Homo sapiens: one gene and its partner. The protein of the gene in region 2 purifies or fractionates together with the protein of the main gene of each other region. This does not show direct contact. Each region holds a gene or a part of one and is shown on either strand. Other genes may lie near its edges.

Region 1 (3,500 bases), on a different chromosome or scaffold from region 2:
TGCAAATTCCTAGAATTTCCCACCTCTTGGTAATAAGTCAGGAGGTTGTTTTAGAAAATACCTGAAACTGAACAACTTTTATTCTAATTAGCTTTATCACTTTTCTCATTCCATATGATTGCTTCTTTAGTTAACTAGCCCTTGAAAACTTCATTTTAGGACTTATTTGTTTTAATGTACAGATGTGGGAAAACCACACAAATTCCGCAGTTTATTCTGGATGATTCTCTGAATGGACCACCTGAGAAGGTAGCCAACATCATCTGTACCCAACCCCGACGAATCTCTGCAATCTCTGTTGCTGAACGCGTTGCTAAAGAAAGAGCAGAGAGGGTGGGTCTGACCGTGGGATACCAGATTCGGTTAGAAAGTGTCAAGGTTTGTATGCTCTGCTTATTTCCTGGTAACAGAAATTTATGGTTTTTAGGTATAAAAAGTTTTGGGGGTTAGGAGATTCATGGGCAATTTGGGATATATACTTTCAGGTTATTTTTAAATTAATGATTACCTTTGGTAATCATTTATTTAAATATTTAGAAATATTTAGAAATATTTTGGTATAAGAACTCTTATGGCCAGGCGCGGTGGCTCACACCTGTAATCCCAGCACTTTGAGAGGCCAAGGCAGGTGGATCACCTGAGGTCGGGAGTTCGAGACCAGCCTGACCAACATGGAGAAACCCCATCTCTACTAAAAATACAAAAATTAGCCAAGTGTGGTGGCACACGCCTGTAATCCCAGCTACTCGGGAGTCTGAGGCAGGAGAATCCCTTGAACCTGGGAGACGGAAGTTGCAATGAGCCGAGATTGCGCCATTGCACTCCAGCCTGGGCAAAAAGAGCAAAATTCTGTCTCAAAAAAAAAAAAAAAAAAAAAACTCTTATTTGGTTGTACTAAATTTCCTCTGTAAAGCTTTTTATTTTTTATTGGCAGAAGTCATCTAGTAAAGACTGTTTTGCTCTTGAACTTGGGACATAATCCATTTAACCAAATAAGGAGCAGACAGATTGAGAACTGTTTTCATTATTCACTGTTTTTTAATGCTTTTTATGAAAATCTTAACATTGTGATATGAAGTAGAAAGGCTTTTATTACTGTCCCTGGCAAGAAACTATGTTTAGTATGGTTTCCTATTAAATGGAACTGCTGGTGTTTCCAATATTTTTTATCACTATCCATTCAAAATGGCTTTCCAGTAATGTTTCCTTTTTTTGAAAATTTTATTAATGATTTATATTGCCCTTTCATGTGTAAGTCCTCAGCCACCAGACTGTTATACTGCACCACGGGAGTGCTGCTGAGAAGGCTAGAAGGAGATACAGCTCTACAAGGAGTTTCCCATATCATTGTTGATGAAGTTCATGAGAGGACAGAAGAAAGGTAAAACAAAGACTTTCCCAGGGAACACACACTCACCTGAATTGAAGGCATGGCAGAAAAAATTGTTTTCTAGTTCCAATTCAGTTTCATGCAGCTAGTAATGGTAATTTGCCACAAGGAAGGCCTATGTTAGAGAAGAGCAACTGCTTTCTTGATCTCCAGGGTCTGTAACACTAAAAAGGACAGCACATGCTCATCACTTATTAGATGGAGTCATCCTGTTAGGTTAGAAGGTATACTTCACACCATCCTGGGCATTATGCTAAGTTGAATACCGTACTTAGTAGAAATAACAGATGTCATGCATGCTGTGGCTGAATGTATCTTCTTCCTTGTTTATTTGGCCATTCAGTCCTGACATTGATTCATGTATTTATTGAGCCTGCATTAAATGCCAAGTGATATATTAGTTGCTGGGGATACAGTGATGAACAAGCATGTATGGCTCCCCCTCATCTCTTACAGTCCAGTAGAAAAAACAAATAATGAACAAGTAAACAAGCAAATGATTGTAAATTGGAATAAGCACTATGAAGGAATAAACGGCATGCTGTGTTTGGAGGGAGAGACCCATAGATGCTCAAAGATCATATCTCTGTAAGATGACAATTTAAATTCAAAACTGAAGTATGGCCGGGCGCAATGGCTCACACCCATAATCCCTGCACTTTGGGAGGCCAAGGTGGGAGGATCGCTTGAGCTCAGGAGTTGGAGCCCCACCTGGGCAACATAGTGAGACCATGTTTCCACGAAAAGTAAAAAAAACAAAACAAAACAAAAAATAGCCAGTAGTCATTCTACTGGGGATACAGAAAAAAAAAAAAAAAAATTAGCCAGGCGTGATGCCTCACACCTAAGGTCCCAGCTACTCAGGAGGCTGAGGCAGGAGAATCAATTGAGCCCCCAGGAGGTTGAGGCTGCAGTGAGCTGTGATAGCACCACTGCACTCCACCCTGGTCAAGAAAGCAAGACCCTGTCTCAAAAGAAAAGAAAAGAAAAGAAAAGAAAACTGAAATATGAGAAGGAATCCCAGGTGACAAACGGGGGTAAGGAAAGTATGTTTGAAGATTTTGCAGTGGGAAGGGGCTTTGTGAGTCCAGAAACAAGGAAGCCCAGTGCACCTGCTGTGTAGCAGCAAAGGGGAAAGTAGCACAGGGAAGAAGCAGCAGGAGCCAGACCTTCCAGGGCCTTAAGCACCACGAATAATAAAGCATGTGGATTTTATCTTATGAAATTAGAAGTCATTAAAGGGTGAGGCATAAAATAAAAATTCTTGCCAGACACAGTGGTGCATGCTTGTAGTTCCAGCTACTGAGGAGGCTGAGGCAGGAGGATTGCTTAAGTTCAGGAGTGCAAGGCTGTGGTGTGCTATGATTGCACCTGTGAAGAGCCACTTCAGCCTGGGAAATATCATGAGACTCCATCTCTAAAAAAAAAAAAAAAAAAAATTAAAAGTCTGAATATTTTAAGTACTGAGGAGGGCCAGGAAGATGGATGGCATTAATCATAGTTTGTCATGTGGATCATGCCCTAGAGCAGTAAAAGAAAACTAGTGGGAAAAAAGAGAAAGTCCTGTGAAAATTATGAAGTTTTCCCACAAAGTATTGTACCACAATAAATATCTTGAGAAGAAGAAAAAAAGTCTAAGTAAACTTGGTGGACTGATAGGAAAGCAGAAAATAGCTAAAAGCAAAACATTAAAAAAAAAAAAAAAAAAGGATTGGTGGCAGGCGCCTGTAGTCCCAGCTACTCGGGAGGCTGAGGCAGGAGAATCGCTTGAACCTGGGAGGCGGAGGTTGCCGTGAGCCGAGATTGCGCCACTGTACTCCAGGCTGGGCGACAGAGCAAGAAAAAAAAAAAAGGAATTGAACAGAGAAGGCATATAACCAGAAGAACTATTAGAAGAAATAATACATTACTATTATTAGTAAATAAGAAATATGAAGTAATTAGAAACTAAAGAAAGACTTTTAGATAAAAAGAATGAACCAAAAGAAAAAGAAATAATTCCTAGAACAAGACAATAATAAATATTAAATTACTATACAGAAAACATTGGAAATCTCTAAGGGGCAAATAATCTTTTTGTAGAAACTCCAGAAAACAATGGGAAAAAAAA
Region 2 (3,500 bases):
ATCTTAAGATCGTACTGTTCCTCTGTTGAAGCCATTCCTGGGGTTAATTTGGAAGGCTTACTCTGGCTTTAAGTAAAGGGATAACTGTGATTTAAAATTTTCTGATTTAATCTTCCTTAGGAGAAGACACCTGATGATAGAGCATTATATATTAATGGAAATAAATCATAAAGTAGTGGGGAAAAAAGCAAAGTATGGAAACATGAATGGTATTCTATCATTTATGTTAATAAAATGTATATATAGTTACTGACTTACATATGTTTAGCAACTGGGAAAAGGCTATGGCAGAGTATGTTAATGGCCTCAATTCTTCCCCCTTCCCTATAGCCATGTATTAATATTTTGCAGTGCCCTTCCATTGTGACACTGGATTCAACAATATGACTTGATTTTGCCAATGATATTAGCAAATGTGATGCATGGAGAGGTTTGAACAGTACTTATGTGACTGGGTTTGCTTACTTTTGCCCTCTGAAACTGCCAGAAGAAGGATATCTTTCAGATGATAAGAGACATGCAGGACAGAGCCAGATCACCCCAGTGGAGCAGATGAGACCATCCTAGATTAGCTGACAGCCAGCTAACTGCCAGACATGTGAGCAGGCCTAGCCTGAGGTCTGCAGAGCTGTTGAATGCAGATGTATAAATAGGGCCTGCCCACCCCAAGTAAGCTGTGCCCCATATACTTATGTGCTAAACATAAGTTTATCACTATATGCCACCAACGTTTTGTGGCTATTTATTATACCACATTATTATGGCAATAGATAACTGATATAGAAGGGTGAACCTCTGGGAAGCAGAATTAGGTAACTGTGGAATTACAAAAGCAAGAGATATTTACTTTTTGAGCACAGACATGATGCTAAAAGGAAATGCTCATTGGAGCATTTCATATTTCAGATTTTCAGATTAGGGATGTTCAACTGTTAAGTATAATGCAAATATTCCAAAATCCAGAAAAATCTGAAATCCAAAACACTCTGGTCCCAAGCATTTTGGATAAGGGATATTCAGTCTGTAGAAGTGATTTAAAAGCCTGGGCAATATGTGTATATGGTAGCTCTAGGAGGAGAACAGGATATATAAAACCAGCTATAATATCAGATGATGAATGCTATAATAGAGGCCTCACCAGAATATTCAGGGAGTAAAGAATAGAAAAAAGAATTTCTGACAGGGTATGGAATATTGAAAGAATGTGACTTAGGGGAAAGTACACTTGAATTAGACTAAAATCATGAAAAGGAATTTATCAGGCAGAGAAAGGAAGGTATCCGGCATCATAAATCAAGCAAACAACATGAGGAAAGGTATTTAAGAGCACACACAATGGCGATAAAGACAGGCAAAGCTGAACTATAGAATATGGGTTGTGGGTAAAATTGTGAGAGGAGATGAGGTTAGAAAGATGCATTATATGGGATAGAAAATGGCCTTCAACTCTAGGCTTAGACGTTAGACTTGACTTTATGGAAAACTGAGAGGCATCAAGGCTTTTATTTCATTGTTATGGTGTTAGATCTGTATTTATAGAAAATATTAAGATTCAGGATGGAAATGGTAAGAATATGTTGCAAGGTTGTGGCCATTTAAGTTGGGAAGTTTAATGGTAGTTAAACTGATACAATGTTGACTTTAGTGGTGTAATTTAAGTTTTATATGATTTTTGCCCAATGCTAATTGAATTATTAAGGTCTGAGATCACTTGGAAGTTTTTCAGTTACACTTTATTGGGTGAAAATGCATTTATTCAATTCATTCCAATATTATGTGTCTACTAGGTGTCTGGAATAAAGGAACGGTCCCTAACTTTATGGTATTTACCATGGGAAAGACAGACCTTAATAAAATATTCACATAAAATGATGTTACAGAATTGAGAATTTGAAGAGTTACAAAGATCATGGCATTTATTCTTTGTCAATGTCTAATGCCAAATGTATATCTTTTTACTCCTTACTGTAGCATCTGGTAATTTGGTTTGTTGAGTCTTCAGTGCAGAAGACTGAAAGTCTGAAAATTTCTAATTATGAATTTGTATTGGATTCCATTATTATTAAACATGTAGCTTCTCATGGCCTTAGGTTTATAGGCAAAAATTGTTCTGCAAATATGCGTTCTGCACTTTAATGCTATTGAGAAACCATGGAGATACAGTTGGCTTTTTTTGTTTTTTGTTTTCTTGATCACTACAGGCAATCTCTCACATACCCAAAGCCACAGGTGGAGTATTTCTCCATCAATTGTATTCTTCTCCCCATAATTGGTGCTTAGGATTTACCTCCTGGTCTTATGCCACCATGAACTGTCTTTATCCTTAATGCATAGCACAGTGCCTGGCCCACTGTCAGTGCTCCATAAATGTTTTCTGGGCAAATAAATATATTCTCCCCTCCTATATCCCCTTTCACTTCATCAAGCCATGGTAAGGACAGGGAAAGGAACACAGAAGGGAAAATACACTCTTTCTTCTTGTCCCCCAAACCACCCCTGTTCCCAGGATGTATATGCATTACCCTGTGTTCCCAGCCAGTCCTCCCATCTCTTCCTATCTCCTCTCCCAAACTGCTACAGATTACAGACACTTCTTATTTTTAAAATGCCTAGAAGACTTAGAAGTCTGGACTTACCACAAAATTATGAACGCATCTTCAATGTTTTGTTTACCTGATTTATTCGATTAAATGCAAATTTGGTGTCATCTGATATCCTAGCAGGGAACAAATACTTGATAGACATCTGACAAATTAAATGGAATAAACTATTTAAAATGATCTTTACTGAAGCACTGCAGTACAGTGAATAACGTTCAAATCCTGTGGCCTCTCTAAGTGTTAATGACCATAGTACTCCTCTTATAGGTGTTATGATTATACAAGGTAACGCATATAAAAAGCTTAGCGCAGTACCTGGCCCATAGCAATCATTACATAAATATCAATGAGCAGGTATTATTAGTAAAGTAGTATTAGTAAATTGAATATCTTCATTTCATAGAGGAAATAGACCCAACAAAATAAAATATTGACTTCATATGTTAATAGTCAGTAGACAGTTGAAAATACTAGAAGAAATATTCAAGAAAATCCAGGACAGACTGTGACCAGTGGTGACCTCCCATTTGTGTACTGAAGCCCATCTCTAGATACCACCAGGGGTGTCCCCCTGAACATCCCAACAACAGCTCAAAAGCAACATTAAAGATTGGATTTAGATTTCCAGGGTGATATGAAACAGGCCAATTTATGATTAATTACCAAATTGACTCCAAACATTTGGCATTGGGAGATGATATATAAAAGGGGATAAAGAGAAAGACATGGCCAGCTACAAATACAAGACAAAAATCTCAGTGGACCAGAAACACAAACACAGAGTAGTTAGTGGAGTTGATGACTTGACTGCAGAAACAGTCAAAGACATCCTAGAATTCAACTCCTGGGGGATTAAATGTGGTGTGTCTCAGGTTGTAGGGAACCAGGCTCACTGTTTCA

Evidence for each region.
Region 1: the proteins of ZSCAN31 (region 2) and DHX57 purify together in Homo sapiens (affinity purification with mass spectrometry; 2 studies listed by BioGRID and IntAct, with this or other methods). This does not show direct contact.

The regions. Positions count from the first base shown.
Region 1 is NC_000002.12:38,851,935-38,855,434, reverse strand, and holds part of DHX57 (putative ATP-dependent RNA helicase DHX57), read left to right. Parts: intron 1-182; coding exon 183-378; intron 379-1,256; coding exon 1,257-1,381; intron 1,382-1,469; exon of another isoform or gene 1,470-1,554; intron 1,555-3,500. UniProt on the Homo sapiens protein: Probable ATP-binding RNA helicase.
Region 2 is NC_000006.12:28,329,649-28,333,148, forward strand, and holds part of ZSCAN31 (zinc finger and SCAN domain-containing protein 31), read right to left. Parts: intron 2,746-3,500; exon of another isoform or gene 2,637-2,745; intron 131-2,636; 5' UTR 36-130; coding exon 1-35.